4 linked regions of the Homo sapiens genome follow. The protein of the gene in region 3 purifies or fractionates together with the protein of the main gene of each other region. This does not show direct contact. Each region holds a gene or a part of one and is shown on either strand. Other genes may lie near its edges. The genes, in order: ARPC1B, ARPC4, ACTR3B and ARPC1A.

What was found.
Region 1: the proteins of ACTR3B (region 3) and ARPC1B purify together in Homo sapiens (affinity purification with mass spectrometry; 7 studies listed by BioGRID and IntAct, with this or other methods). This does not show direct contact.
Region 2: the proteins of ACTR3B (region 3) and ARPC4 purify together in Homo sapiens (affinity purification with mass spectrometry; 6 studies listed by BioGRID and IntAct, with this or other methods). This does not show direct contact.
Region 4: the proteins of ACTR3B (region 3) and ARPC1A purify together in Homo sapiens (affinity purification with mass spectrometry; 7 studies listed by BioGRID and IntAct, with this or other methods). This does not show direct contact.

What each region holds. Positions count from the first base shown.
Region 1 is NC_000007.14:99,384,721-99,391,744, reverse strand, and holds part of ARPC1B (actin-related protein 2/3 complex subunit 1B), read right to left. Parts: intron 6,044-7,024; 5' UTR 6,031-6,043; coding exon 5,967-6,030; intron 5,061-5,966; coding exon 4,956-5,060; intron 3,707-4,955; coding exon 3,484-3,706; intron 1,841-3,483; coding exon 1,733-1,840; intron 853-1,732; coding exon 646-852; intron 568-645; coding exon 492-567; intron 1-491. UniProt on the Homo sapiens protein: Component of the Arp2/3 complex, a multiprotein complex that mediates actin polymerization upon stimulation by nucleation-promoting factor (NPF).
Region 2 is NC_000003.12:9,796,072-9,803,095, forward strand, and holds part of ARPC4 (actin-related protein 2/3 complex subunit 4), read left to right. Parts: intron 1-1,587; coding exon 1,588-1,706; intron 1,707-4,113; coding exon 4,114-4,225; intron 4,226-5,589; coding exon 5,590-5,685; intron 5,686-7,024. Other genes in the region: ARPC4-TTLL3 fusion protein, read left to right, coding at 1,588-1,706, 4,114-4,225, 5,590-5,685. UniProt on the Homo sapiens protein: Actin-binding component of the Arp2/3 complex, a multiprotein complex that mediates actin polymerization upon stimulation by nucleation-promoting factor (NPF).
Region 3 is NC_000007.14:152,762,744-152,769,767, reverse strand, and holds part of ACTR3B (actin-related protein 3B), read right to left. Parts: intron 1-7,024. UniProt on the Homo sapiens protein: Plays a role in the organization of the actin cytoskeleton.
Region 4 is NC_000007.14:99,356,885-99,363,908, reverse strand, and holds part of ARPC1A (actin-related protein 2/3 complex subunit 1A), read right to left. Parts: intron 5,570-7,024; coding exon 5,494-5,569; intron 4,365-5,493; coding exon 4,171-4,364; intron 367-4,170; coding exon 276-366; intron 1-275. UniProt on the Homo sapiens protein: Probably functions as a component of the Arp2/3 complex which is involved in regulation of actin polymerization and together with an activating nucleation-promoting factor (NPF) mediates the formation of branched actin networks.

The sequences.
Region 1 (7,024 bases), about 53 Mb from region 3:
TTTTGTGTCGCCGAGGCTGAAGTGCAGAGGTACGACCATAGCTCAGTTCAGAAGCCTCGACCTCCCATGCTTAAGTTATCCTCCTGCCTCAGCCTCCCAAGTAACTGGGATTATGAGATTACAGGTGCACCACCACACCCAGCTAATTTCTTAACTTTTTGTAGAGACAAGGGTCTCACACTGTGTTGCCCGGGCTGGTCTCAAACTCGTGGCCTCCAGTGATACTTCCACCTCAACCTCGCAAAGTGCTGGGATTTTAAGTGTGAGCCACCGCACCTGGCCAAATCTTTACTCTGTTAAGCAACTGCAGCCAGGGACTTTTGGTTACTGCAGCATAACCCAACCTGTTCTGCCCAATTCTGGTACATGAGAGAATGCAAGGAAGAAAAAAAGGAGGGAGGCAGGAGAAAGGAGGGAGGAGATGAGAGTTGCTGGGCTCTCTCGGAGGCCTGCTGTGACCACACACCCTCCCTCCCCTCCCTATTCCTCACCGCTGCCACCAGGCTGTTGTCTGTGATGAAGGTCAGCGCCAGCAGTGGTAGTGTTTCAGAGGCCAGAGTCGCGACGCTGAGGGGAGAGAGCTGTGAGTCACGGTGTCCCACTCCTCTGCACTCACCTCCTCCCCTGGGGATGGCCTCGACTCACGCCATCTTCTTGTCGGCATCAGCCAGGCAGACGGTGCTGTCGTGGCTTACCCAGGCCACGCGGCTCCCGCTGGCTGAGAAACAGACGCCATGTACCCAGCCGCAGCTACTGCTGGATTCGAACATCAGTTCCCCAAAGGGCATCTTGGAGCCCCACGGGGTGGGTGCCGGCCGTTCCTCCACCTCCTTGATGTAGGCTGAAAAGATCCTACCGGGATAGGCAAAGTAGAGGTAAAGTAGCCAGGCATGGTGGTGCGCACCTGTACTCTCAGCTACTCAGGAGGCTGAGGCGGGAGGATTGCTTGAACCCAGGAGGTCAAGGCTGCAGTGAGCTGTGATTGCGCTACTGTGCTCCAGTTTGGGCAACAGAGTGAGACTGTCTCAAAAAAAAAAAAAAATTTTTTTTAAAGGGTTAACAGGTGCCTGGGCATGGTGGCTGAAGCTTGTAATCCCAGCACTTTGGGAGGCTGAGGCAGATGCATCACTTGAAGTCAGGGGTTCGAGACCAGTCTGGCCAACATGGTGAAAACCCGTCTCTACATTTAAAAATACAAAAATTAGCCGGGCATGGTGGCATGCGCCTGTAGTTCCAGCTACTCAGGAGGCTAAGGCAGGAGAATCGCTTGATCGCTTGAACTCAGCAGGCGGAGGTTGCAGTGAGTCAATATCACGCCACTGCACTCCAGCCTGGGCGAAAGAGCGAGAGTCCGTCTCCAAAAAAAAAAAAAAAATCCTGTCTAGCTGGGCGTGGTAGTCTTGCTTGGGAGGCTGAGAAGCAAGAGGATCGCTTGAGTCCAGGATTTGGAGGCTGCAGTGAGCTATGATTGCACTACTGCATTCCAGCCCGGGCAACAGAGCAAGCCCCTAGCTCAAAAAAAATAAAAGAGGTGGGCAGAGGCCCATCCAGCTGAGACATGAAGGGTTCCCCAGGAACTAGAACCTTCAACCGACGCCCAGGTCATCCACTGGTAGCAGGTCTGGAATGTGTCTAGAAGCTGGGGTGTAGAGCTTTCAGGTGCGGCTCCCCGCTATGATGTCAGCAGTCAGTTGACGTCAGCCCCGCCCTCCCCCATGGCGCCCTGTCTCACCGACACTTGAAGTCACAGGAGCCGGCAGCCAGCAGCACATTGTTGGGGTGCCAGTCCAGGCTGAGGACGGTGGAGCGGATGGGCTTCTTGATGTGCTTGCAAACCCACCTGGGAACGGTGGTCAGGCAGACAGGGAGAGAGGGACAGGCAGGTGGGACTCATGGACCTCAGCACCAGGGACTCCAGGCTCCCACTGCTCCCTGCAGCCCACCAAAGACCCAGGAGAGAGGCGACTGGGCATTGCCAGCCCACAAGGCCGTCAGGGCCCTGGGGCGGCAGGGATGTGCTGTGTCGCTTCTGGAGTGGGAACTCTGTGCCCTCTATCCTTTAGGCCACACAGTCACCCTCAGAGCAGGCTCAGCAAAGTGATGCCATCACCAGAGGTCACACAACTACTAACTGGCCATGGTGGGATGCAAATTTGGGTCTCTCAGATGCTCCTGGCTGGCCTCTGCCCTCAGCCATGCAGGGGAGATTAAAAACTAAGACGTGGACTGGCAATCATGGCTCACACCTGTAGTCTCAGCACTTTGGGAGGCTGAGGTGGGAAGATTGCTTGAGGCCAGGAGTTCAAGACCAGCCTGGACAACGTGACAAGACCCTATCTCTACAAAATAAATAAATAAATGATTTGGGCCTGTAGTCCGAGCTACTCAGGAGGCTGAAGTGGTAGGATTACTTGAGCTCAGGAGGCTGAGGCTGCAGTGAGCTATGATCACAACACTGCACTCCAGCCTGAGCGACAGAGCAAGACCTTGTCTCAAAAATATATATATGGCCGGGCGCAGTGGTTCACGCCTGTAATCCCAGCACTTTGGGAGGCGGAGGCAGGAGGACCACCTGAGGTCAGGAGTTCAAGACCAGCCTGACCAACATGGAGAAACCCCATCTCTACTAAAAAATACAAAATTAGCCTGGCGTGGTGGTGCGTGCCTGTAGTCCCAGCTACTCAGTAGGCTGAGGCAGGAGAATTGCTTGAACCTGGGAGGCAGAGGTTGCGGTGAGCTGAGATTGTGCCACTGCACTCCAGCCTGGACGACAGAGCAAGACTGTGTCTCAAAAAAAAAAAAAAAAAAAAAATTGGCTGGGCACGGTGGCTCACGCCTGTAATCCCAACACTTTGGGAGGCCGAGGCGGGTGGATCATGAGGTCAGAAGTTCTAGACCAACCTGGCCAAGATGGTGAAACCCCATCTCTACTAAAAATATAAAAATTATCCGGGCATGGTAGCAGGTGCCTGTAATCCCAGCTACTTGGGAGGCTGAGGCAGAGAACTGCTCGAACCCGGCAGGCAGAGGCTGCCGTGAGCCAAGATCGTGCCACTGCACTCCAGCCTGGGTGACAGAGTGAGACTCCATCTGAAAAAAAAAAAAGGAACAAGATGTGGCTGCGAGCTCGTGAGTGGTGCCTTGAGAAAGTGACTGCTACAGGGCCTTTGCTAATCTGTAAAGTGGGGACAGTGACCGATGCCCAGTCCACGGAGCTGCAGGGAAGTCAGGACTAATGTGTGTGCAGGGCTTAGTGAGGTGCCCCCAGATGTGTTTCTGGTGTGGTGGGTGTCACTGGCAGTGAGAACATCCGGACGCTGCAGAGAGGCCCTTGCCTCATGAATGAGGCCCAGAGAGGAGAGGATGGACTCCCCCAGGGTGATGGGAACAGGGGTCCTGACATCCCATTTGGTGCTTCCCGGGGACACTCTAGTCCTGCCCCCGGTCCCTAACAGCCCACTCTGGCCCTGCCTAGGTACCCACCAGTCATTCTCCTGCTCGAAATAACAGATGGAGATCACACGAGAGCCGCTGCCCACAGCAAACTTGTTCTCGTTGGGGGCCCAGCGCACGCAGCGGGCAGCCCGGTTGATCCGCAGGATGACCAGCGTGGGCTTCCATGTGCGGCCCTTCAGCGTCCACACGTAGGCGTTGCGGTCTGTGCCGCAGGTCACAATACGGTTACTCTCGGGGGCCCAGTCGATGCCTGTGGGGGGATGGAGGGAACACAGGAGGCTGATGACACTCAGGCAGAGGTGGCTGTATGGTGGCCACATGGGAGAGGCTGAAAGGCCACCATCCAGGTGGAAGCTGTATCTGCCCAGCAGGCACTTTTTTTTTTTTTTGAAACAGAGTCTCGCTCTGTCACCCAGGCTGGAGTGCAGTGGCATGATCTCAGCTCACTGCAGCCTCTGCCTCCCAGGTTCAAGCAATCCTCGTGCCTCAGCCTCCTGAGTAGCCGGGACTACAGGTGTGTACCACCAATCTTTTTTTTTTTTTTTTTTTTTTGAGACAGAGTCTCGCTCAGCCGCCCAAGCTGGAGTGCACTGGCACGATCTCAGCTCACTGGAACCACCATCTTCCGGGTTCAAGCAATTCTCACATATCAGCCTCCCAAGTAGCTGGGATTACAGGCACCCGCCATCATGCCTGGCTAATTTTTGTATTTTAGTAGAGATGAGGTTTCACCATGTTGACCAGGCTGGTCTTGAACTCCTGACCTCAGGTGATCCGCCCGCCTCCGCCTCCCAAAGTGCTGGGAGTACAGGCGCAAGCCACCGCACCCGGCCTCTTTCTTTCTTTGTTTTTATTGCGACACAGTCTCGCTCTGCCATCCAGGCTGGAGTGCAGTGGTGCAATCTCAGCTCACTTCAACCTCCGCCTCCTGGGTTCAAGCGATTCTTCTGCCTCAGCCTCCAGAGTATCTGGGACTACAGGTGCGTGCCACCACACCCGGCTAATTTCTGTATTTTTCAACATTTAGTCATGTTGGCCAGGATGGTCTCGAACTCCTGACCTCAAGCGATCCACTCGCCTTGGCCTCCTGAAGTGCTGGGATTACAGGCATGAGCCACTGCACCCGGCCCAGCAAGCACTTTTTACTGAGATCCAGTGCTTATTTAGAGTGACACCAGGGGGCACTCCTAGAGCTTATGAGGGAGTGTCAGAGCCCTCCATGCTATCAGCAAACATGCTGGAGGGCAAAGCCAAGAGGCAGAAAAGATGGGTTCTTGGTCATGTGGAGCTGCTGGATCAAGCCTCTCCTGAAGCCCTCAACCCTGTGAGTTTTTGGTAACATGAGCCAACACAGTCCCCTTAAAATTGAAGCCAGTTTGAATCCGGGTTTCACGGTGAGTGGGCAGATGCTCCACAATGAGTGGCCATGCCCTGCCTTGCACCACCCCCCCAACCCACCACCTCCTTTCAGGACGGTGGTCCCAGCCACCCTGACATACCTGTCACCTGCCCGTTGTGCTCCTTGAGCTCGTGCACCTTGGTCCATTTGGCACCGCTCTTTTCATAGATATGCACCTCATGGTTGTTGGGGCAGATGGCAATCTCTGAAGGGGAGATGGAGGGAGATTGAGGGGCCCTCTCCATGACTGCCCTCTGCCAGGACACACTACACAGTGCACCTAGGCAACAACACCTCACCTTTCATGACTCAGTCTCTCCTCTTCTGCCTTGCAGGGGCCCCCTGAAGTCCTTCAGGCCCTGCTAGGCCACCCTGTCTTCTCCTGGAACTGGCTGTCCTTTACTCGCAGCAATGAACCCTGGGACCTCTCCCCACCCTATTGCTCTGGCCAACCAGGAACCCTTCGCTGCTCCTGCTGACACCTCAGGGCCCCTGCACCTGCCAGCCCCTCCCCAGCTGGGGCACAGTTCCCTTCCTCTCCCCCTCTGGGTCTCTGGGTAAATGTCAAAATGTCATCTCCTCCGAAAGGCTTTTTCTTGGTCACTTTTTCTTTCTTTCTTTCTCTCTTTTTTTTTTTTTGAGACAGAGTCTCGCTTTGTTGCCCAGGCTGGAGTGCAGTGGTGCAATCTCGACTCACTGCAACCTCCGCCTCCTGGGTTCAAGCAATTCTCGTGCCTCAGCCCCCCGAGTAGCTGGGATTACAGACACCCACCACCACGCCCAGGTAATTTTTGTATTTTTAGTAGAGACAGGGTTTCACCATGTTGCCCAAGCTGGTCTGGAACTCCTGACCTCAAGTGATCCACCCACCTCAGCCTCCCAAAGTGCCGGGATTACAGGCATGAGCTACCGCAACTGGCCCATTCCCTCCTTAAACTTTAACCCAGGAGGCCCCTGGTCAGCTGGAAGACCCAGGGGTGAGGCCAGGGGACAGCCACATGGAGCCCATGGTCCGGGGGCCTGGCTGCTCCAGAGTCCCCATGTGTGCTCTGGCTGGTCCCCATCCCAGGAGGTGGAAGCAGCCACCCACCGGCCCCCAGCAAGCACTCACGGGTGCGGTCCTTGTTCCAGGCGTGGCAGCTGATGGGCTCCACCAGGAAGCTGTGGTAGGCCATGGCGGCTTGGCTCCTGTGCCCGAGAGAGGAAGAGAGAATCCACGTCAGCCCCAACCTTGCCCCTGACTTCACCCATACCAGGCCCCAGATGATCCTCACAGGCCTCACACCAGGGAGGCCCCTCAGTTTAGAGGGGCAGCAGTTTGCAGAGAGGAGCAGCAGGGGCCAGCCCTGGCTCCCAACTGGCCTGACATGTTGCTTCCCCTCCTGGGGCCTCAGTTTCCCTCCTTATAAAAGGGCAGCTTTCACAGGATGTCTCTGAGGCTCCAGGGACAGGGTGGAGGAGACGGTACTACAGGGGAGATGCTCCCTGGGGCGGGGTGGGGTGCTAGGACTCCAAGCTGGACAGGCCCCTCACTTGTCATCTGTGCCTCGGTTTCCTCATAGGATGGACGACCCCCCCCCCCCCACCCAACTTCCCCTGCCCCATTAAGGATGGGATGAAGATGAAGTCATCCAGGCCAGGCCCGGTGGCTCATGCCTGTAATCCCAACACTTTGGGAGATCGAGGCAGGCGGATCACTTGCGGCCAGGAGTTCAAGACCAGCCTGGCCAACATGGTGAAACTCCGTCTTTACTAAAACTACAAAAAATTAGTCGGGTGTGGTGGCGGGCACCTGTAGTCCCAGCCTGAGGCAGGAGAATGGCGTGAACTTGGGAGGCGGGGCTTGCAGTAAGCCGAGATCGCACCACTGCACTCCAGCCTGGGCGACAGAGTGAGACTCCGTCTCAAAAAAAAAAAAAAAAAAAAAAAAAAAAATTAGCCAGGTGTGGTGGCACCTGCCTGTAATCCCCACTACTCAGGAGGCTGGGTGACAGAGCAAGACTCATCTCAGAAAAAAAAAAAAAAAAAAGAAATGAAGTAATCTCATAAACCACCTAGAAAGGTGTCCAGCACATGGCAGTTGGCCCTGCCGTGCCCAGAGCCCTGGTCTTCCCCCACACTGCTCAGACGGGGAGAAGGGAGGTGGCCGGTCTGCAGGGGCTCATGGCT
Region 2 (7,024 bases), on a different chromosome or scaffold from region 3:
GACAACAGAGTAAGACTCTGTCTCAAAAAAAAATAAAAAAGGCCAGGCACGTTGGCTCACGCCTGTAATCCCAACACTTTGAGAGGCCGAGGTGGGCGGATTGCCTGAGGTCAGGATTTCAAGACAAGCCTGACCAACACGGTGAAACTCCGTCTCTACTAAAAATACAAAAATTAGCCAGGCATGGTGATGTGCGCCTGTAATCCCAGCTACTCGGGAGGCTGAAGCAGGAGAATCGCTTTAACCCAGGAGGCGGCGATTGCCGTGAGCAGAGATCGTGCCACTGCACTCCAGCGAGGGTGACAGAAGCGAGACTCCCTCTCAAAAATAAATATTAAGAAGACATGAAAGACATTTTTTTGTCAATTGTAATAAATACTTTATAGGGGGATGTCAAGGTCTCTCTCAAGAGGCCTTCCTTAATTAAGCTGAGATCTGGAGGATGACTTAGGCAAAGAAAGAGGAGAAAAGCCTACAGATAGATGGTCAAGCATGTGTAAAGCTCTGAGGTGGGAAAGAATTTGGCTGATACAAGGACTGACCAGTGCAGCTAGAAGCTAATCCCTCTCCTAAGAATGTCCTTATTCTGGCAGGGTGTGGTGGCTCACGCCTGTAAACCCAGCACTTTGGGAGGCCAAGGCGGGCAGATTACAAGGTCAGGAGATTGAGACCATCCTGGCTAACACCGTGAAACCCTGTCTCTACTAAAAATACAAAAAGTTAGCCGGGTGTGGTGGTGGGCGCCTGTAGTCCCAGCTACTTGGGAGGCTGAGGCAGGAGAAGGGCATGAACCCGGGAGGTGGAGCTTGCAGTGAGCCGAGATCGTGCCACCGCGCTCCAGCCTGGGCAACAGAGCGAGACTCTGTCTCAAAAAAAAAAAAAAAAAAAGAATGTCCTTATTCTCCTTTTTCTCCTCCTAATCCCATTTCACCTTCAAAACCAGTTTCTTCTGCAAATATAGATTACTTGTAAATCTAAATATTTCACATGTCATCTTTATATCATAGTTATTTTCTGTATATTTGCTATCCAGTTGAGCTGTTTGAGGGTAGAGACAGTGTTAATCATCTTTGAATTCCCAGTTAGCTCAGTGCGTGGCAAACAGTACACCTATACATTTGTTGGCCTAATAGATTGACGACAATCATGCATTCACTGGTGTGTCTCTAGATCACTTTCTCAACCTTAGCACTATTGATATTTGAGTCTCGATAATTCTTTGTAGTGCATTGTAGTATGTTTAGTGGATATCTGTCCACTGAATGCCTGCAGTTCCCCTTCTTGCCAAGTCATGACAATTGAAAATGTCTCAGCATTCCTCTGGTCTGACCCCAGGTTAAAAAAGAAAGAAAGGAAATGTCTCGACATTACCAAATGTACCCTGGCAGGCAAAATTGTCTCCTGTTGAAAACTACCACTCTACACCTTGGAAGGCGTCTCGAAGGCCTAGTCTGTTCTGTTCACAGTAGTGTCTTAAGAGCCTTGCACCCTCAGTGCTACCTGGCTTCATGGGAGCTGGAATAGGGGATCGGTGGGTTTGGCGTGACAGATTTTGATCTTCCCTTTCCTCTGTGTTATTTCCTATAGACTGCCACTCTCCGCCCCTACCTGAGTGCCGTGCGGGCCACATTGCAGGCTGCCCTCTGCCTGGAGAACTTCTCCTCCCAGGTTGTGGAACGACACAACAAGCCGGAAGTGGAAGTCAGGTAGGGAAGGACAAGTCAAGGTGGGGATGAGGGGTGCAGCACACAGAGATGGCTGCTGTCTAGAAGGTGCCATGAACTTATGTCCTGCAGTAGTCAGGAAAGCTGCAGTTGACATTTTGTCTTGCTGCCAGCTGAATGGTGATTCCCAATTTGGAGTTAAGAAAATAGGGTCAGTGGGTTGGCAGGACAGAACCCAGGGGAAAAGACAAGATTGGTTAACACAAGGTATGACTTCTCAGAGCAGGGCTGTTGATGAAGTCTCTCCTGTGGCATTGTTGAAAACACTGGTAGTTTAAGGAATGGTCAGATAATTGTTATCTGAGATTCCATCTCCATACTTTTCTTTTTTTTTTTTTTTTTTCCCATCTCCATACTTTTCTAATGTAATGATCAGGGATTTTTTTTTTACCTACCAGCCTAGACACTCTGACCCCCTAATCCAAATACTTCATATTTTGAATGATTTTCTCTTATCTAGTTTCCATTTCATAAATATCTTTTTCCCCTTTAAAATTTAATCTGGAGGCCTGGTGCAGTGGTTCACCCCTGTAATCCGAGCACTTTAGGAGGCTGAAGTGGGTAGATCGCTTGAGTACAGGAGTTCAAGACCAGCCTGGGCAACATGGCAAGACTCCATCTCTACCAAAAAAATATGCAAAAATAGTCAGGCATGGTGGCACATGCCTGTAGTCCCACTTCTCTGGAGGCTGAGGCAGGAGGATCTCTTGAGCCTGGGAAGCAGAGGTTGCAATGAGCCAACATTGCGACAGTGCACTCCAGCCTGGGTGAGACCCTGTCTCAAAAAATAAGTAAATAGGCCGGGCACAGTGGCTCACGCCTGTAATCCCAGCACTTTGGGAGGCCGAGGCAGACAGATTATGAGGTCAAGAGATCGAGAGCATCCTGGCCAACATGGTGAAACCTTGTCTCTACTAAAAATACAAAAATAAGCTGGGCATGGTGGTATGCACCTGTAGTCCCAGCTACTCGGGAGGCTGAGGCAGGAGAATTGCTTGAACCTGGGAGGCGGAGGTTGCAGTGAGCCAAGATCGTGCCACCGCACTCCAGCCTGGCAGCAGAGCAAGACTTCGTCTCAAAAATAAAATAAAATAAAATAAAATAAAATAAAATTCATTCTGGTACATACATAACTGAGATAATCTGGGTTACAACATTAAATGATACGATTTAATTTTTAATTTTAAAAATAACTGATAAAGATGTTAGGATATGCCCTGTTATACTGTGTAACGTACACGATTTCCAGTGGGCCTTTGAAAATGGTTAGCAGTTTAGAGACACCACACCACAATTAATTACTATTAGAGATCTCTAGGTATTCAGAGGCATTACTTTGTAACCTGAACTCATAGGGGTCTCAGAGGCAAATGAATCATTTCTGGATTGATAATTAAAGGAAGCCAAACTGTGTTCAATTTTAGCCTTTCCTTACCTCTAAGACAGGTGTTCTCTCTGTATTCCTAAATGGTATATTGGTTTGCCTGTACAGGTTGAGTATCTCTTATCCAAAATGCTTGGGACCAAAAGTATTTCAGATTGTGGAATATTTGCAGATACTTAACCAGTTGAGCATCCCTAATTCCAAATCCAAAATGCTCCAATGAGGATCTCCTTTGAGCATCTTGTCAGCACTCGGAAACTTTCAGGTTTTTTTTTTTTTTTGAGATGGAGTTTGATTCTGTCACCCAGGCTGGAGTACAGTGGTATGATCTTGGCTCACTGCAACTGCCACCTCCTGAGTTCGAGCAATTCTCGTGCTTCAGCCTCCTGAGTATCTGGGATTATAGGAGTGCGCCACCATGCCCAGCTAATTTTTATATTTTTAGTACAAATGGGATATCACCATGTTGGCCAGGCTGGTCTCGAACTCCTGACCTCAGGTGATCCACCAGCCTCAGCCTCTCAAAGTGCTGGGATTACAGGCATGAGCCACTGTGCCCAGCCAGTTTCAGATTTTGGATTTCAGATTTGCAGATTGGGGATGTTCAACTTGTAGTTACTAAAATAGCTATCTTTTGTAAAGCTCCTACTATGTGCCAGGCACGCTATTAGACATTTGACCCTTTTTGATCTCTCTCAGTCCTCGCCAGTGAATTAGGAATCAGAGTCATTTTACAGATGAGAAAATTGAGATTCCAACAGGGTAACTTGCCCAAGGAAAGTAACAGAGGAGGCTGGATTTCAAAACCTTTTCGCCCTGACTTCAGAGCCTGTGCTCTTTCTGCTGAAGAACACACTCACTGGCCCCCATCTTGGAGCACTCCTGCTTGTGAGTCTTCTATTCCTTGGACTCTATGGTCTCATAGTGATTCCAGGACCTGCGTGGGGTCACTCTGACTATTCTATCCCTCTGTAGTACAAGTACTCTGTCACATTATGTTTTCAGGAGTAGCAAAGAGCTCCTGTTACAACCTGTGACCATCAGCAGGAATGAGAAGGAAAAGGTTCTGATTGAGGGCTCCATCAACTCTGTCCGGGTCAGCATTGCTGTGAAACAGGTAAGTTCACCATGGAGGAGGCCCAACGTAAGGCCTCTTTCAGTCCTTTCAGCCTCTTTCAGTCCGGGGTCCCCATCTGAGAGATCAGTGTGCCAGATTCCAGATTCAGAGTGCAGGAAACCTAGCCTCTGCTTCCTTTTTTTTTGACACGGATTCTCACTCTTGTCGCCCAGGCTGGAGTGCAGCAGCATGATCTCAGCTCACTGCAACCTCTGCCTCCCGGGTTCAAGCAGTTCTTCTGTCTCAGTCTCCCAAGTAGCTGGGATTACAGGCATCCGCCACCACGCCCAGTTAATTTTTGTATTTTTAGTAGAGACAGAGTTTCACCATGTTTGCCAGGATGGTCTCCATCTCCTGACCGCAGGTGATGGGCCCGCCTCAACCTCCCAAAGTACTGGGATTACAGTCATGAGCCACCATGCCTGGCCAGTAGAGGGCAACTCTAAACTTTCAACAGGATGAAAACGAAGCACTGTTATTAAATGCAGACTACACACTGTTTTCTACAGAAACTTATAAACCTGGGGCCTGCTTTCCTTGCTAAAATGGGAGGTTAACAAGTGTTGAGAGGTGTTAAGGGCATGCTAGCAACCAGCAGCAATAATCTTCCTTTAGAAATGTTGAGAGTTCAGGGCCAGGCACAGTGGCTCATGCCTGTAATCCCAGCACTTTGGGAGACCAAGGCGGGTGGATCACTTGATGTCAGGAGTTCAAGACCAGCCTGGCCAACATGGTAAAACCCTGTCTCTACTAAAAATACAGAAATTAGCCAGGCGTGGTGGCACGCGCCTGTAATCCCAGCTACTTGGGAGGCTGAGGCAGGAGAATCGCTTGAACCCGGGAGGCAGAGCTTACAGTGAGTCAAAATCGTACCACTGCACTCCAGCCTGGGTGACAGAGCGAGATTCCATCTCAGAAAAAAAAAAAAAAAAAAAAAAAAAGAAATGTTGAGCATTCAGAAGGGAGAAACTTCAGGGATTGTTGGATGTTCAGTGTTATTAAAGCAGAGACCACCTAAGGTTATCTCTGATAGCCCAGGTGATGCTGCAAAACACCCTGGGAAATGTGACACTAGTGAAATGAGAATGGAAAGGGCAGCTTGGAGTACAGCTGTAGACTCTGAAAGAAGCAATAGAAGCCTGTCAGAATTACCTCTCTGGAATGGGTCGTCATTAAGAGATGCCCCAAGGTAGACCCTTGTTTCAGTTGACAGCCAGGTCCCCCACTTCAGTGATCCTTCCGAGTACCAAACCTCACTGTCTCCTGGGAGCCTTGAAAAAACTGGAGTCAGAAGACCAGGCTACAAGGTGTTTTTGGCCTTGGGTGTCAGCTTTAGAGAAACATTTCTCTCTTGCACTCCCCAGGCTGATGAGATCGAGAAGATTTTGTGCCACAAGTTCATGCGCTTCATGATGATGCGAGCAGAGAACTTCTTTATCCTTCGAAGGAAGCCTGTGGAGGTGAGACCCTGTGACCCATGAGTTTGCGATACCCAGGACCCTGTTACAGAATGGCCTGGGATTGTTTCTAGAACCAGCTACTCCAGCTGTTTGGCACCCACTGCCTGAATTGAGAGTTGGCCTTCATCTTGGAGTGGGAGCAAAGAGGATTAGAAGCTTAGGAAAAGTTGGGTCTACCTCAGCCATAGAAAAGGCAAAAAAGAGCCGGGCGTGGTGGCTCATGCCTCTAATCCCAACACTTTGGGAGGCCGAGGTGGGTGGATCATGAGGTCAGGAGTTCAAGACCAGCCTGGCCAACATGGTGAAACCCCATCTCTATTAAAAATACAAAAATTAGCTGGGCATGGTGGTGGGCGCCTGTAATCCTAGCTACTCAGGAGGCTGAGGCAGAGAACTGGTTGAACCTGGGAGGCGGAGGTTGTAGTGAGCCAAGATCGTGCCACTGTACTGCAGCCTGGGCGACAGAGCAAGACTCCGTCTCAAAAAAAAAAAAAAAAAAAAAAAAGGCAAAAAAGATAAGACACATTGCTTATTCCCGGAGCCTATAGTCTAGCATCAGAAAGAGCACAGTGAATTAGAAATCCTTTCTAAGATCTGCCAAATGAATCATAGTCTCTCTCTCTTTTTTTTTTTCTTTGAGACGGAGTCTCGCTCTGTCGCCCAGGCTGGAGTGCAGTGGCACAATCTTGGCTCACTGCAAGCTCCGCCTCCCGGGTTCACGCCATTCTCCTGCCTCAGCCTCCTGAGTAGCTGGGACTACAGGCGCCCACCACCACACCTGGCTAATTTTTTGTATTTTTAGTAGAGACGGGGTTTCACCATGTTAGCCAGGATGGTCTCGATCTCCTGACCTCGTGATCTGCCTGCCTCGGCCTCCCAAAGTGCTGGGATTACAGGCTTGAGCCACCGCGCCTGGCCTTTTTTTTTCTTTTTTTGAGATGGAGTTTTGCTTTTGTTGCCCAGGCTGGAGTGCAGTGGCGCAGTCTCACTGACTGCAACCTTCCACCTCCCAGGTCAAGTGATTCTCCTGCCTCAGCCTCCCGAGTAGCTGGGATTATAGGCACGCATGTGCTACCATGCCCAGCTAATTTTGTATTTTTAGTAGTTTCATTGTGTTGGCTAGGCGGTCTCAAACTCCTGACCTCAGGTGATCCGCCTGCCTCGGCCTCCCAAAGTGAATCATAGTCTGCAATCTGGGCTCACTGCAAGCTCCGCCTCCTGGGTTCACGCCATTCTTCTGCCTCAGCCTCCCGAGTAGCTGGGACTACAGGTGCCCGCCACCATTCCCGGCTAATTTTTTGTATTTTTAGTAGAGACGGGGTTTCACTGTGTTAGCCAG
Region 3 (7,024 bases):
AAAAGGACTATATATAATGATAACAATTAGACAAAAATACAGTCTGCCCTAAAGTGCACCAAAAAAGATATTAATAAAATAAAATGGACTACATGGCAAAAGATGTTTAAATACATATATATGTAAATATTGCAAAACTGAGGCCAAATATATCAATCATATCAATACATATAAATATGCTTAAATCACCTATCTATGAGTATAAATGAGCTTAAGTCATCCAACAAAAGGCAACATTTTCATATTGACTAAAAAGCAAAACAATATTTTGGGTACAGACAATTCAGAAAGAATAATAAAAGGATGGAGAAATATATATATATCTATATCAGACAAACACAAGGAGAAGCAAGCAGGGATCACACATCTTGATATCTGACAAAGTACAACTCGGCTGAGAAAACAATTAGAAGGCTACTTGATATGCTAAATCAACAACTCTAGTGAAGAGACAAGTTATTTCTATCTAGATAACCAATATGGCAGCAACAACTTTCATAAAGCAGAACCCACAGAAAATGCGAGGAGACCTTAATAGGTTACTAACAATAGGAGGCCTTAGTATGCCATTCTCAGTCCATGACAGACTAGGTACACACACACACAAAAATGTGAGCCCAGACATGGTGGCTCACCCCTGTAATCCCAGCACTTTAGGAGGCAGAGGCGGGTGGATCACCTGAGGTCAGGAGTTCGAGACCAGCCTAGCCAACATGGAGAAACCCCGTCTCTACTAAAAACACAAAAATTAGCCAGGCATGGTGGCGGGTGCCTATAATCCCAGCTCCTCGGGAGGCTGAGGCAAAGAACTGCCTGAACCCAGGAGGTGGAGGTTGCAGTGAGCCGACATCACGCCACTGCACTCCAGCCTGTACGACAGAAGGAGACTCGGTCTCAATTAAAAAAAAAAATTGGAAGCCCTAAATAACATAATTAATAAGGTAGTTCATATAGACACATTAAACTCAGAACTTATAAAGATTGTATCTCCTAGCCAGGCGCGGTGGCTCATGCCTGTAATCCCAGCACTTTGAGGGGCCAAGGTGGGTGGCTCACCTGAGGTCAGGGGTTCGAGACCAGCCTGGCCAACATGGTGGAACCCCGTCTCTACTAAATATAAAAAATTAGCTGGGCGTGATGGCGGGCGCCTGTAATTGCAGCTACTTGAGAGGCTGAGGCAGGAGAATTGCTTGAATCCAGGAGGTGGAGGTTGCAGTGAGCCGAGATCGCTCCATTGCACTCCAGCCTGGGCAACAAGAGTGAAACTCTGACTCAAAAAAATGAATACAAAGAACATTCGCAAACCCTCTTAGGCCACAATAAGTGAAAACAAACAAACAAACAAACAAACACCAGAACTATCCCACTAAAATCAGGAATAAAATAATAATGCCCACTAACTCCACTCTGATTTAAATTAACATTGCTTTGGAGGTAATGGCCTCTGCACTGTGTCAATAAAAAAGCAGTTAAGAGTCCCTAAAAATGGAAAGGAAGAGGTAAAACAATCTCTTTTGCCAATAACAGGTTTTGGTTTTTATTTTTGAGACAGCGTCTGGCTCTGTTGCCCAGGCTGGAGTACAGTGGCTCAATCTCAGCTCACTGCAACCTCCGCCTCCCAGGTTCAAACGAGTCTCCTGCCTCAACCTCCCATGTAGCTGGGATTACAGGCGTGTGCCACCACGCCCAGCTAATTTTTTTGTATTTTTAGAAGAGACAGGGTTTTGCCATGTTGGCCAAGCTGGTCTCAAATTCCTGGCCTCAAGTGATCTGCCTGCTTCGGCCTCGCAAAGTGCTTGCAATTACAGGTGTGAGCCACTGCGCCAGGCCCAATGACAAGTTTTTATATCTGAAAATCCCTAGGGATCAAGGGAAAAATTTATACAAATAATATGAGCATTCTGTAAAGCAGCACGTTATAAAATGAGTAACTACCATGAAAAACCACCATGTAATCTAGGAATGAAAAAACTAACAATCTTCATATATTCAAGAAAAACAAGATAAAATGGAAGAGAAGGCACCATTTATGATAGCAAAAAAAAATCAAATACATAAAGTTAACAAGAAATCTACCTGCAGAAACACCACAATATTCCTAAAAGACACAAAATAGACTTGAACTAATGGAGAGATAAACCATGTTCTTTGATGGGAAGACTCAGTATTATACAGATAATGATGCTCATTAAATTAATTTTTAAGTTTAATAAAATCCCAATAAAAATGCCATCAGGCTTTCTCTCCCAGAACTAGAGAAACTGATTACAAAGATCACTTGGAGGAACAACAATCGAAAATACATGGGAAAGCCCTAAAAAGGAATTAGATGGGCAGGGGAAGCCGGCACCATTAGAAATGAAATCATTCTAAAGAGCCTAATTAAAACTGTGTGGTGCTGCTATTATGAACAGACCAATAGACTAACTCAACACAATACAAAATCCAGAAAGAAACACAATTGCATAGACAAATGCAGCATATGATAAAGGCAGCATCTCCAGTCATTGGGTTTTTTCCATAAATTATGTTGAGATAAACAGGACAGCCATAGCCACACACACACAAAAGTGGATCCAACTGGGTCCATTCTTCATACCTTATCTCAGGATAAATTCCAAATGAATTAGAGATTTAAATGAAAAAAATGAAACCATTAAAAAAAAAAAAAAAACCTACCAGCTGGGCACAGTGGCTCACATCTATAATCCCAGCACTTTGGGAGGCCGAGGCAGGTGGATCACCTGAGGTCAGGAGTTTGAGATCAGCCTGACCAATATGGTAAAACCCCCTTCTCTACTAAAAATACAAAAATTAGCCCGATGTGGTGGCATGCACCTGTAGTCCCAGCTACTCGGGAGGCTGCAGCAGGAGAATCGCTTGAACCCAGGAGGTGGAGGTTGCACTGAGTGGAGACTGTGCCGCCGCACTCTAGCATGGGCAACAGAGTGAGACTCTGTCTCAAAAAAACAGAAAAGAAAAAGAAGAAAAGAAACCACCATGTAATCTGGGAATGAAAAAAACCTTTCTTAACTATGACTCAAAATCTAGAAACAATAAAGAAAAGATGAATAAATCCGATTGCCTAAAGAAAACAAACTTTGCATGGTAAAAGACAAATGATAAATAGGGGAAATATATTTGCAACGTATATCATTAAGGGTTAATATTCTCTATGTGCAGAAGAAAGTTAATGGGCCTGAGACTGCTGTCTCTTAGAAAGTCCTGCTTGGAGGAATGGCCTTTAATTGGTATCTAGGATCTTGGAGTTCAGGCGTTCCCACCATTCCCTAAATGCTAAAAGTAGTTCACTGCTCCTAGAGTGGCAAACAACGTGGTTTATGCCAATGCCTTGCTTTCCTTCTGGGACTCTGGAATTCCGGCACGTGCTATGCACAGGGTGCCTGCATGACAAGTCCCCAGTGAAAACCTTGGGCCCTGTGTCTCTGAGGAGCTTCCCTGGTACGGAGCATTGCACACGTGTTGTCACAGCCTGATGCTGGAGGAATTAACTGCATCCTGCACGGCTGCACTGGGTGAGGACTCGGGAAGCTTGCCCCGGTTTCCTCTAGGCTCCACCCCACATCTTTTCCCTTGGCTGTTTTTGCTTTGTACATTTTCACCGTAGTCCTGATTCCTCCTAGCAAGTCACTGGAACTGGGAGTGGTCTGCGGAACCCCTGAACAGACCTTAATACATGAAGAGCTTCTAAAAATGAAGAAGCAAAAGACCAAAACCCCAGAGAAAAGTTAGAGAAATGAAGAGACCGAAAAAAATAAATGCGAAGATTATCATAATCATGAAAGTGGGTTGTTAAAATATGAAGTTCAGCCTTCTCTCGTGCTCACAATCTCACCCACTCTTGCCCTTCCTTCTTCCGCCATGGGATGACACAGCACGCAGGGCCTCATTAGATGCTGGCACCATGCTCTAAGACTCTGCAGCCTCCAGAACTGTGAGCCAAATAAACTTTTTTTTTTCTTTTTTTAAGGTGTGCACTTTTACTGAACTGGTCTCAAGTCAGTGTACAGGTATGCCCTGGATGCCTCCACACTTCCACCCACTCCCAGGGAGACCAAAAGCCTTCATACATCTCAAGGTAGGGACAAAAATGGGGACCATGATAGCTGATTATTCAAAATAAAACAAAAAGTATTAAGGTGAAGATTTTTTTAAATGTTGCATTACATAATTTACATGAAAGCAATCCTGTAACCTCCCCTTTGTGGACTCAGGAGAGAACTGGGCCGTTCTCCTGAGAGAAGTGGGGTGGCTTTTGGGAGGGCAAGGGACTTCCTGTAACAATGCATCTCACAATATGTGGAATGACTATTTAAAAAAAAAAAAAAAAAGCCAGGCGCAGTGGCTCATGGCTGTAATCTCAGCACTTTGGGAGGCCCAGGCAGGCAGATCACCTGAGGTCAGGAGTTCAAGACTGGCCTGACCAACATGGAGAAACCCCGTCTCTATTAAAAATACAAAATTAGCCGGGCATAGTGGCGCATGCCTGTAATCCCAGCTACTTGGGAGGCTGAGGCAGGAGAATCACTTGAACCCGGGAGGCGGAGGTTGTGGTGAGCCAAGATCGCGCCATTCTACTCCAGCCTGAACAATGAAAGCAAAACTCTGTCTCCGGAAAAAAAAAAAAAAAAAAAAAAGGGCCAGGGTAAGACCCAGTCTCAAAACAAAAATAAAAATAAATAAGTAAAATAAAGAACAATGTACAATCAAGGTCCTCGGCCACACTGTAGAACTTTGGAGGATGCTCACTCCAACTAACTGCTGTCACCTTCACCATTCTATTCTTTTCTTTATAAATTACCCGGTGTGTGGTATTCTGTTACAGCAACACAAAACAAAGACATTAAGATATCATTTATTCTAGGTTGGTAATTTTACAAATTGGCAATAGGCTCTATTGGTGAGTCTGTAAGACACAGGCATCCTCACACATTACTGGTGAGAATGCACACTAATGAGTGTAATTTGACACTGCCTAGCAAAATTACATATGCATTTGCCCTTTGACCCAGAAATCCCATTTCTAAAAATCTAAGCCACAGATACTCAGGCAAAAAATACAAAAAGATATCCTTGCTTTATTTTTTCTTTTTTTTTTTTTTTGAGATGGAGTCTCGCTGTTGCCAGGCTGGAGTGCAGTGGCGCGATCTCAGCTCACTGCAACCTCCGCCTCCTGGTTCAAGCGATCCTCCTGCCTCAGCCTCCTGAGTAGCTAGGACTACTAAAATTAGCCCACCAGTGTGCCCGGCTAATTTTTTTGTATTTCTTTTTTTTTTTAGTAGAGACGGGGTTTCACCGTGTTAGCCAGGATGGTCTCGATCTCCTGACCACGGGTCGTGATCCACATCCTCGGCCTCCCAAAGTGCTGGGACTACAGGTGTGAGCCACTGCGCCTGGCCAGAATGCTCAAAAAATGAAGACATGTCTAAAGAACATGGAAGGCCAGGTGCAGTGCCTCACTCCTGTAATCCCAACACCTTGGGAGGCAGAGGTGGGCAGATCACCTGAGGTTAGGAGTTCAAGACCAGCCTGGCCAACATGACAAAACCCCATCTCTACTAAAAATACAAAAAAACAGCCATGCGTGGTGGTGTACACCTATAATCCCAGCTACTCAGGAGGCTGGGGCAGGAGAATCGCTTGAACCCGGGAGGCAGAGGTTGTAGTGAGCTGAAGTCACACCACTGCACTTCAGCCTGGGCAACACAGCAAGACTCCGTCTCAAAAAATAAATAAATAAAAAATAAAGAACATGGGAGTCAGCCTGAATGAGCTTCACTTGGCAAAATCTGGGACAATTTAAGCAATAGATAACCCACTGACAACAATGAGGACGGCATAATGGATTATCATTCTTTGAACAGAACGACAACTCATACAGACAATAAACAAATGAGGCCTATGGATAAGTTCTTCCTTAAAATAAAATGTTAACTAATAAATGGAGACAGAATAATAGAGTTCAAAAATCACCATTTTGCAACCATCACCATAATTAGTAATTCAGGCAAGAATCACCAATGGGCCAGGCACAGTGGCTCACGCCTGTAATCACAGCACTTTGGGAGGCCAAGGCGGGTGGATTGCTTGAGATCAGGATTCAAGACCAGCTTGGGCAACATGATGAAATCCCGTCTCTACCAAAAATACAAAAAGTTAGCCGGGCATGGTGGCTCATGCCTGTAATCCCAGCTACCCATGAGGCTGAAGCAGGAGAATTCCCTGAACCTGGGAGACAGAGGTTGCAGTGAGCAGAGATTGTGCCACTGCACTCCAGCCTAGGAAACAGAACAAGATTCTGTCAAAAAAAAAGAAAAAAACAAGAGTCACCAATGGATACTTAAACTAATGGATGAAAGTTTAAGAATAGAGTACTTACATAAAATATTCCCCCACAAATGACTTTTTTTTTTTTTTTTTTTTTTTTTTTTTTGAGATGGAGTCTCGCTCTGTCACCAGGCTGGAGTGCAGTGGCCCGATCTCGGCTCACTGCAACTTCCGCCTCTCGGATTCAAGTGATTCTCCTGAGCAGCCTCCAAAGCAGCTGGGACTACAGGCACGCACCACCACACCCAGCTAATTTTTGTATTTTTAGTAGAGACGGGGTTTCACCATGTTGGCCAGGTTGGTCTCGAACTCCTGCCCTCAGGTGATCCGCCCGCCTCGGCCTCCCAAAGTGCTGGGATTACAGGCATGAGCCACCGCGCCCAGCCAAATGACTTATTAATTACAAAGAAAAATAGTAACTGAACAGTGAAGAAACCTCGTGGACATCACCCTCTCCAAATGATCCAAGTGAACTTCATCAAGACTGAGGCGAGTCCCTATCTTAAGCCTTTCGATGGGATGCACTAAGAAGGATCAACAGGACTTCTGTGGTAGTCCTGACAAATATGCATATCCTGTATCTATCACAGAGAAACACTAGGTAACAACTGGCTGTCAAAAATGCCAACATCTTGAAAGACAAAAAAAGGTTAAGAAATTATTCCAGATTAAATTA
Region 4 (7,024 bases), about 53 Mb from region 3:
ATACTAGATTTAACATTTTGTTTCAAGAAATGAGAAACATTCTTCTCATAAGAGTTTTGTAAAAATATTCACGGAGCATGGTGGTGCATGCCTGCTGTCCCAGCAGCTTGGGAGGCTGAGGTGGGAGGGCTGCTGGAGGCAAGGAGTTGGTGGCTGCAGTGAGCCATGATTGTGCCACTTACTCCAACCTGGGTGACAGAGAAGGAGCCTATCTCTTAAAAAAAAAAAAAAAAGTTTTAACACAAACAAAATTTGTTCTGTTAGGTAGAAAATACCTTGAAATCCCAAATTGTCATGGCTCCATCGATGCCAGTAGTGCAAAATTTGCGACAATCTTGCTTGTCCACCTCATAAATAGAGACTTGACTGAAAAAAAGCAAAGCAAAAGAGATCGTAAGGTATGTAGTGGAAGTGAACACAAACATTCCTGACTAATAGTGTAAGGGCAGCTTAAGGAAATGAATTATCTTCTTCTTTATTTTTTAAATAGAGCTGGGATGCGGGTCTCATTATGTTGCCCAAGCTGGTCTTGAACTCCTGGGCTCAAGTGATCCTCCTGCCTCAGTCTCCCAAAATGCTGGGATTACAGGCATAAGCCACCACGCTCCACCAGGAAATGAATTATCTTTTAACTCCTGATTATGAACTTATCCATGAACATTAGGCTGCAACAATCTGGCTCAGAAAATACCCCAAAGCATATTATTACCAGATGTCCAGGAAAGACAAAACTGGCAAGGGGAGAAGTTAAGAACTTGCCTTGGTTAGCGTGACCTGGGGAAGCAGGAATGACCCAGCCCACACAGCACTCAAATGCTGGGAGCAGGTTGTGGGTAGGACCACAGCCATGGCGAAAACAGTATTTTTGTTTGTTTTTAAATAAACCAGAGGCATGATGAAGCATGACTGAATTCCATAGCTCCAAACAAAACCTCTCAAATCAGCCTCCAAGACAGCCAGTGCAGATAAGCCAACAGCCCTCCTTGAGTCTGAAGTGAATCATCATAAATGTTAGCAGCAGACACACCACTAGATTCCGACCAAGCTAAGCAGGGGAACAGATAAATGAAACAACTTGTCTTAGCCTAATTATCTGGAAGCTTTCAAGACAATCATCCATTGCTCAGACAATATTTTTCTTTCTCCTTTGAGATGTCTAGAACTTACCCGCCTCTTCCCCGACGCTGGGAAGGGGATGGCAAACTATGGCACACACTGCCTATGCCCGTACAGCCTGTGAGCTTAAATAAAAAAAAAAAACAACAAAGGCCAGGTGCAGTGGCTCACGCCTGTAATCCCAGCACTCTGGGAGGCCGAGGTGGGCAGATCACGAGGTCAGGAGATCGAGACCATCCTGACTAACACAGTGAAACTCTGTCTCTACTAAAAGATACAAAAAAAAAAAAAAAATTAGCCAGGCATGGTGGCGGGCGCCTGTAGTCCCAGCTACTTGGGAGGCTGAGGCAGGAGAAGGGCGTGAACCCAGGAGGCAGAGCTTGCAGTAAGCCAAGATCGTGCCACTGCACTCCAGCCTGGGTGACAGAGACTCCATCTCAAAAAAAAAAAAAAAAAGGGGGGCGGGGTTTTACATTTTTATTTTATTTATTTATTTATTGAGATGGAGTCTCACTCTGTCACTCAGGCTGGAGTGCAGTGGTGCGATCTCGGCTCACTGCAACCTCTACCTCCCAGGTTCAAGCGATTCTCCTGCCTCAGACTCCCGAGTAGCTGGGATTACAAGCACCTGCCACCAGGCTGGCGAATTTTTGTATTTTTAATAGAGACGGGGTTTTGCCATGTTGGTCAGGCTGGTCTTGACCACCTGACCTCAAGTGATCCGCCCACCCCAGCCTCCCAAAGTGCTGGGATTACAGGCGTGAGCCTCTGCACCTGACCCGGCTTTTACGTTTTTAAATAGCTGGAAAAAAATTAAAAGGAGACTATTATTTCATGAAGTGAAAATTACATGAAATTCAAATTTGAGTGTCCATAAAGTTTGACGGGAACACAGCCACCTCATCTGTTTACATCATCTGTGCCTGCTTTCCTGCCACAACCAGAGTTCAGTAGTTGCAACAGAGACCTATGGCCTCTAGGAGTCTAAAATATTTACTATCTGGTCCTTTACAGAAAAAGTTAGCTGACACAGTTCTAGTGCAAAGAGCACCTAATTTCTGCAAATAAAAGTAGACTAATCAGCAAGGGTTTGTTCTTTTCATTTTTCATCTAGAAGTGTCAGAGAGGCAATGAGAGCTTTTTCTTTCCTTAACACTTGGTCTGTATAGAAACGTAAGAGAAACTCACAAGAAGTAACTCGGAGCCATTCAAGACAGAGAAACCTAAAGAATGGAGAAAAGGTGAGTTTTGCTATAGAAGGAGAAACCTGAAGAATGTGGAGAAAAGGTAAGTTTTGCTATGCCTTCAGGTTCTTTTTTTTTTTTTTTTTTGAGATAGGATCTCACAATGTAGCCCAGGCTGAAGTACAGTGGCACAATCACAGCTCACTCCTCCCAAGTAGCTGGGACTACAGGTGCGTGCCAACACAGCCAGCTAACTTAAAAATTTTTTTGTAGAGATGGGGTCTTGCTGTGTTGCCCAGGATGGTATTGAACTGCTGGCCTCAAGTGATCCTCCTGCCTTGGCTTCCCAAAACGCTAGCATTACAGGTGTGAGACATGGTGCCAGGTCTCTGGTTCTCATTTTTCAATACAGCATTTGCAGCCTATTTTATATACAGCTGCCCCTTCTCCGCTGAAGATGAAGCACAACCTGCATTTCATTGTAATTCTCTCAAACAGGAAGTCTAGAGGTTTCCATTACTTCTCCCACCATCAATACCACAATAAGATTCTAAACATAAAAGGCTTCTCAGTAAGGGAAAATCCCATGGGACCCAACTCTGAACACAGTAATTTAGAATATCAAGCATATATTTCTCCTCCAGGTGCCTTTTTTTTTTTTTTTTTTTGAGACGGAGTCTCACTCTGTCACCCAGGCGGGAGTGCAGTAGCTCAATCTTGGCTCACTGCAACCTCCACCTGCCCGGTTCAAGCAATTCTCCTGCCTCAGCCTGCCGAGTAGCTGGGATTACAGGTGTGTACCACCATGCCAAGCTAATTTTTGTATTTTTTAGTAGAGATGGGGTTTTGCCATGTTGGCAAGGCTGGTCTCGAACTCCTGACCTCAAGTGATCTGCCTGCCTCAGCCTCCCAAAGTGCTGGGATTAAAGGTGTAAGCCATCATGCCCAGCCTCTCCTCTAGACCTTAAAAATCAAACTTTCAGGCCAGGCACGGTAGCTTACGCCTGTAATTCCAGCAATTTGGGAGGCTGAGGTGGTTGGATCACCTGAGGTCAGGAGTTTGAAACCAGGATGGCCAACAGGGTGAAACTCCGTCTCTACTAAAAATACAAAAAATTAGCCAGGTGTGGTGGCACACGCCTGTAATCCCAGCTTCTTGGGAAGCTGAGGCAGGAGAATTGCTTGAACCCGGGAGGCAGAGGTTGCAGTGAGCCGAGATTGTGGCATTGCACTCCAGCCTGGGCAACAGAGTGAGACTCTGTCTCAAAAAAAAAAAAAAAAATTAAACTTTCTGGACAAAACACAATTCTGTTGTCTTACATAATTACATATACCTGATGAAAACCCAGTCGAGACACTCCTCAGCTTTGTCATCATGATGATAAGAAATTCTGTTCCTTTAATTAAATAATCTTCTTATTTGTATCCATTACTTGAAACGACAGCTACAGTTACCTTTTCCAACAGGCTGTAACTTCGCTTTCTGTTATGTGTGCACTACTGTGGGAACGCAGCATTCAGGAATGTCTCCTTTTGTTCTCGAGTAGCTGAGAAAGGGTACCCTAGGAAGCAGCTGCCCTGAGGCCCCACCACCTCAGATTGCAACAAGGTCTGCACTGCTCCTGCTGGCTGCTGCCTTGTAATCTGCACCTTGAAGGACAGAATGACCAGGTGGTGGCGACTCCCTCCCTACCACGAGCTGGAAATGAGAGCCTGGCGGTCGGGAAGATACAGACTTCTTGCTGCACTTGTCCCTGAAAGAATGTCTGGGCCTGAGGGGCATAGAGCTTTTGTAGGAACCCAGTAAGGAAACAGCGAGGGGCAGGAAGGCACCTTGTCACCTGACCACCTCTCTACAGACGGCACCTACGTGATGCTATTCTGGTGCAGCGTCTCCAAGGCCGTGTTGCGGTCCTCAGTTGTGGCTCTCTTGTCCATGTTGCGGAAGCGTTCCATGGCAGACATGTTGCGTTGGATGCTCTGTTTTGGAATATCTAACTTGGAGACGAAGGTCAGGCAGCCGCGGTCATCGTAGTTAAAGAGCATTGGGCAGCAGTCATGGCCCTGAAACAAGACTCAGTCAGTCCCTGGAGGATGCACTGCCCACCGCCCACCTCCTTGGCAGAGTGTTCACCACGACAGGCCTCTCTTACTCTTTTTTTTTTTTTTTTTTGAGACCGAGTCTTGCTCTGTTGCCCTGGCTAGAGTGCAGTGGCACAATCTCAGGTCACCACAACCTCTGCTTCCCGGGTTCAAGTAATTCTCCTGCCTCAGCCTCCCAAGTAGCTGGGATTACAGGCGTCTGCCACCATGCCTGGCTAATTTTTGTGTTTTTAGTAGAGACGGGGTTTCACCATGTTGGCCAGGCTGGTCTTGAACTCCTGACCTCAAGTGAACCACCCGCCTTGGCCTCCCAAAGTGCTGGGACTACAGGCGTGAGCCATCGTGCCCCACCCCCTCTTACTCTTAAAAGTGAGCGGCCGGGCACGGTGGCTCACACCTGTAATCCCAGCACTTTAGGAGGCCAAGGTGGGCGGATCACGAGGTCAGGAGATTGAGACCATCCTGGCTAACATGGTGAAACCCCATCTCTACTAAAAATAAAAAAAATTAGCCCGGCGAGGTGGCGGGCGCCTGTAGTCCCAGCTACTCAGGACGCTGAGGCAGGAGAATGGCGTGAACCCGGGAGGCGGAGCTTGCAGTGAGCCAAAATTGCGCCACTGCCCTCCAGCCTGGGCGACAGAGCAAGACAGTCTCCAAAAAAAAAGTGACCTCTGAGGCCGGGCACGGTGGCTCATGCCCGCACTTTGGGAGGCCAAGGTGGGTGGATCACCTGAGGATGGGAGTTCGAGACCGGCCTGACCAACATGGAGAAACCCCGTCTCTTCTAAAAATACAAAATTAGCCAGGTATGGTGGCGCATGCCTATATTCCCAGTTCCTCGAGAGGCTGAGGCGGGAGAATCGCTTGAACCCGGGAGGCAGAGGTTGCGGTGAGTCAAGATCACCCATTGCACTCCAGCCTGGGCAACAAGAGCAAAACTCCATCTCAAAAAAAAAAAAAAAAAAAAAAGTGAGCTCTGTTTCTTCTAAAAAACTGTTCTGCTTTGTGCTAGGGTGACAGAGCACACATTGTTCCCTGTCTGAGCATCACATACAGTGCACCCCGAGGGAGAATGAAGAAAAATACTCACAGCAGCCACGACGCTGTTCTCTGAGACAAATGACACACTTAGGAGCGGCAGGAACTCTGTCTTCAGAGTCGAGACCCTGAACACAAGAACATGTGTTATCCCAAGATGCAACAGACTATTAGCTTCTTTACAGACACAGATGATCACAAAGGACCCATTCTCACAGGGGCTTCTGCAGTATCAATGGGCACTTATGTTGAAAAGGAGCCCCTGACCTCAACTTGCAGGCCTCTCAAGACAGGGGCAGCCCTGGGTTCCGGCTCTGCCTCCTTCTGAGGCCCTGCCCACTGACGACAAACTGGTTCCCAAAGCCCAGTCTTTGCATCACGCCCTTCCACCCCCAGCACAGCTCTAAAGGGATCACCCCCATGATCCCACGGTCCACTTTCCCGGGCCACTTCCGCCTAAAGTGGCTTCTCCCTGCTCTTAGCTCCTAGAGCTCTTCCTGTTACTATGACTTGGCAGCAGACACCTGTGCTAGGACCTTCTCCTTGCCTGTGCTCACCGGAGCTCCGAGAGGGCTGTGACCACACAGATCTGTGCTGACGGCCAGGCACTGTGTTAGGAGCTAGAGCTACCAAGATGAACCAAACGGTCTTAGCCAGGAGCTCACACTCGAATGGGCCATGTGTGTGTATGTGTGCCTGCAGGGACATGTGTGTGCATGTAGTTATTTGCTCTTGAATGTGGCAAAGAGATTACACAGATATGGCAGGCAGACACACTGGCTGATGAGTTAGGAGCACCTCACTTCATGCAAGAAACGATGCATTCAAAAGCTGACTGTGGCTGGGCATGGTGGCTCACACCTGTAATCTCAGCACTTTGAGGGGCTGAGGTGGAAGGATTGCTGGAGGCAGGAGTTTGAGATCAGCCTGGACAACATAGTGAGACCCAGTCTCTACGAAAAATTAAAAAAAAAAAAAAATTAGCCTAGAGTGGTGGTGCACGTCTGTGGCTCCAGCTGCTTGAGAGGCTGAGGTGGGAGGAGAACTTGAGCTCAGGAGTTCCAGCCTGGGCGACAGAGAGTGTCTCTCTAAATTAAAAAATAAAAAAAAGCTAACTGTATATGTCTCAGGACACCCTTCATAAAGTTGGCATTGAATTGAAGAACTAATGTGTCATCTTAAGCCCTTAGTGCGGTATACCTGACTTTTACTACATGAGATATTTATGTTGGAGGAGTGGAAAGGTGGAGCATGTAATCTGACTTGCAGGACTGGAAAAGGGAAAGAAGTCAGTACGAGGGTAGACAGGGACTTGTAATAAGTGTATGCTAAGAACTTACTGTGTCACAATAAACCATATAAAAATCAAGTAACACTGGCATCAAAATACAAAAGTATTATCAAGTATTAAAAGGCAAATTACCAAATGTATATAAAAATGTATAAAATAATCTTATTTCTGTTAAAAATGAAAAGATATATAAGTGCCTGTTTATGTAGGGAAATCTTCTGAAAGACTACATTTTATAATGGAAGGGACAATCTTTCTTTTTTTCTTTCTTTTTTTTGAGATGGAGTCTCGC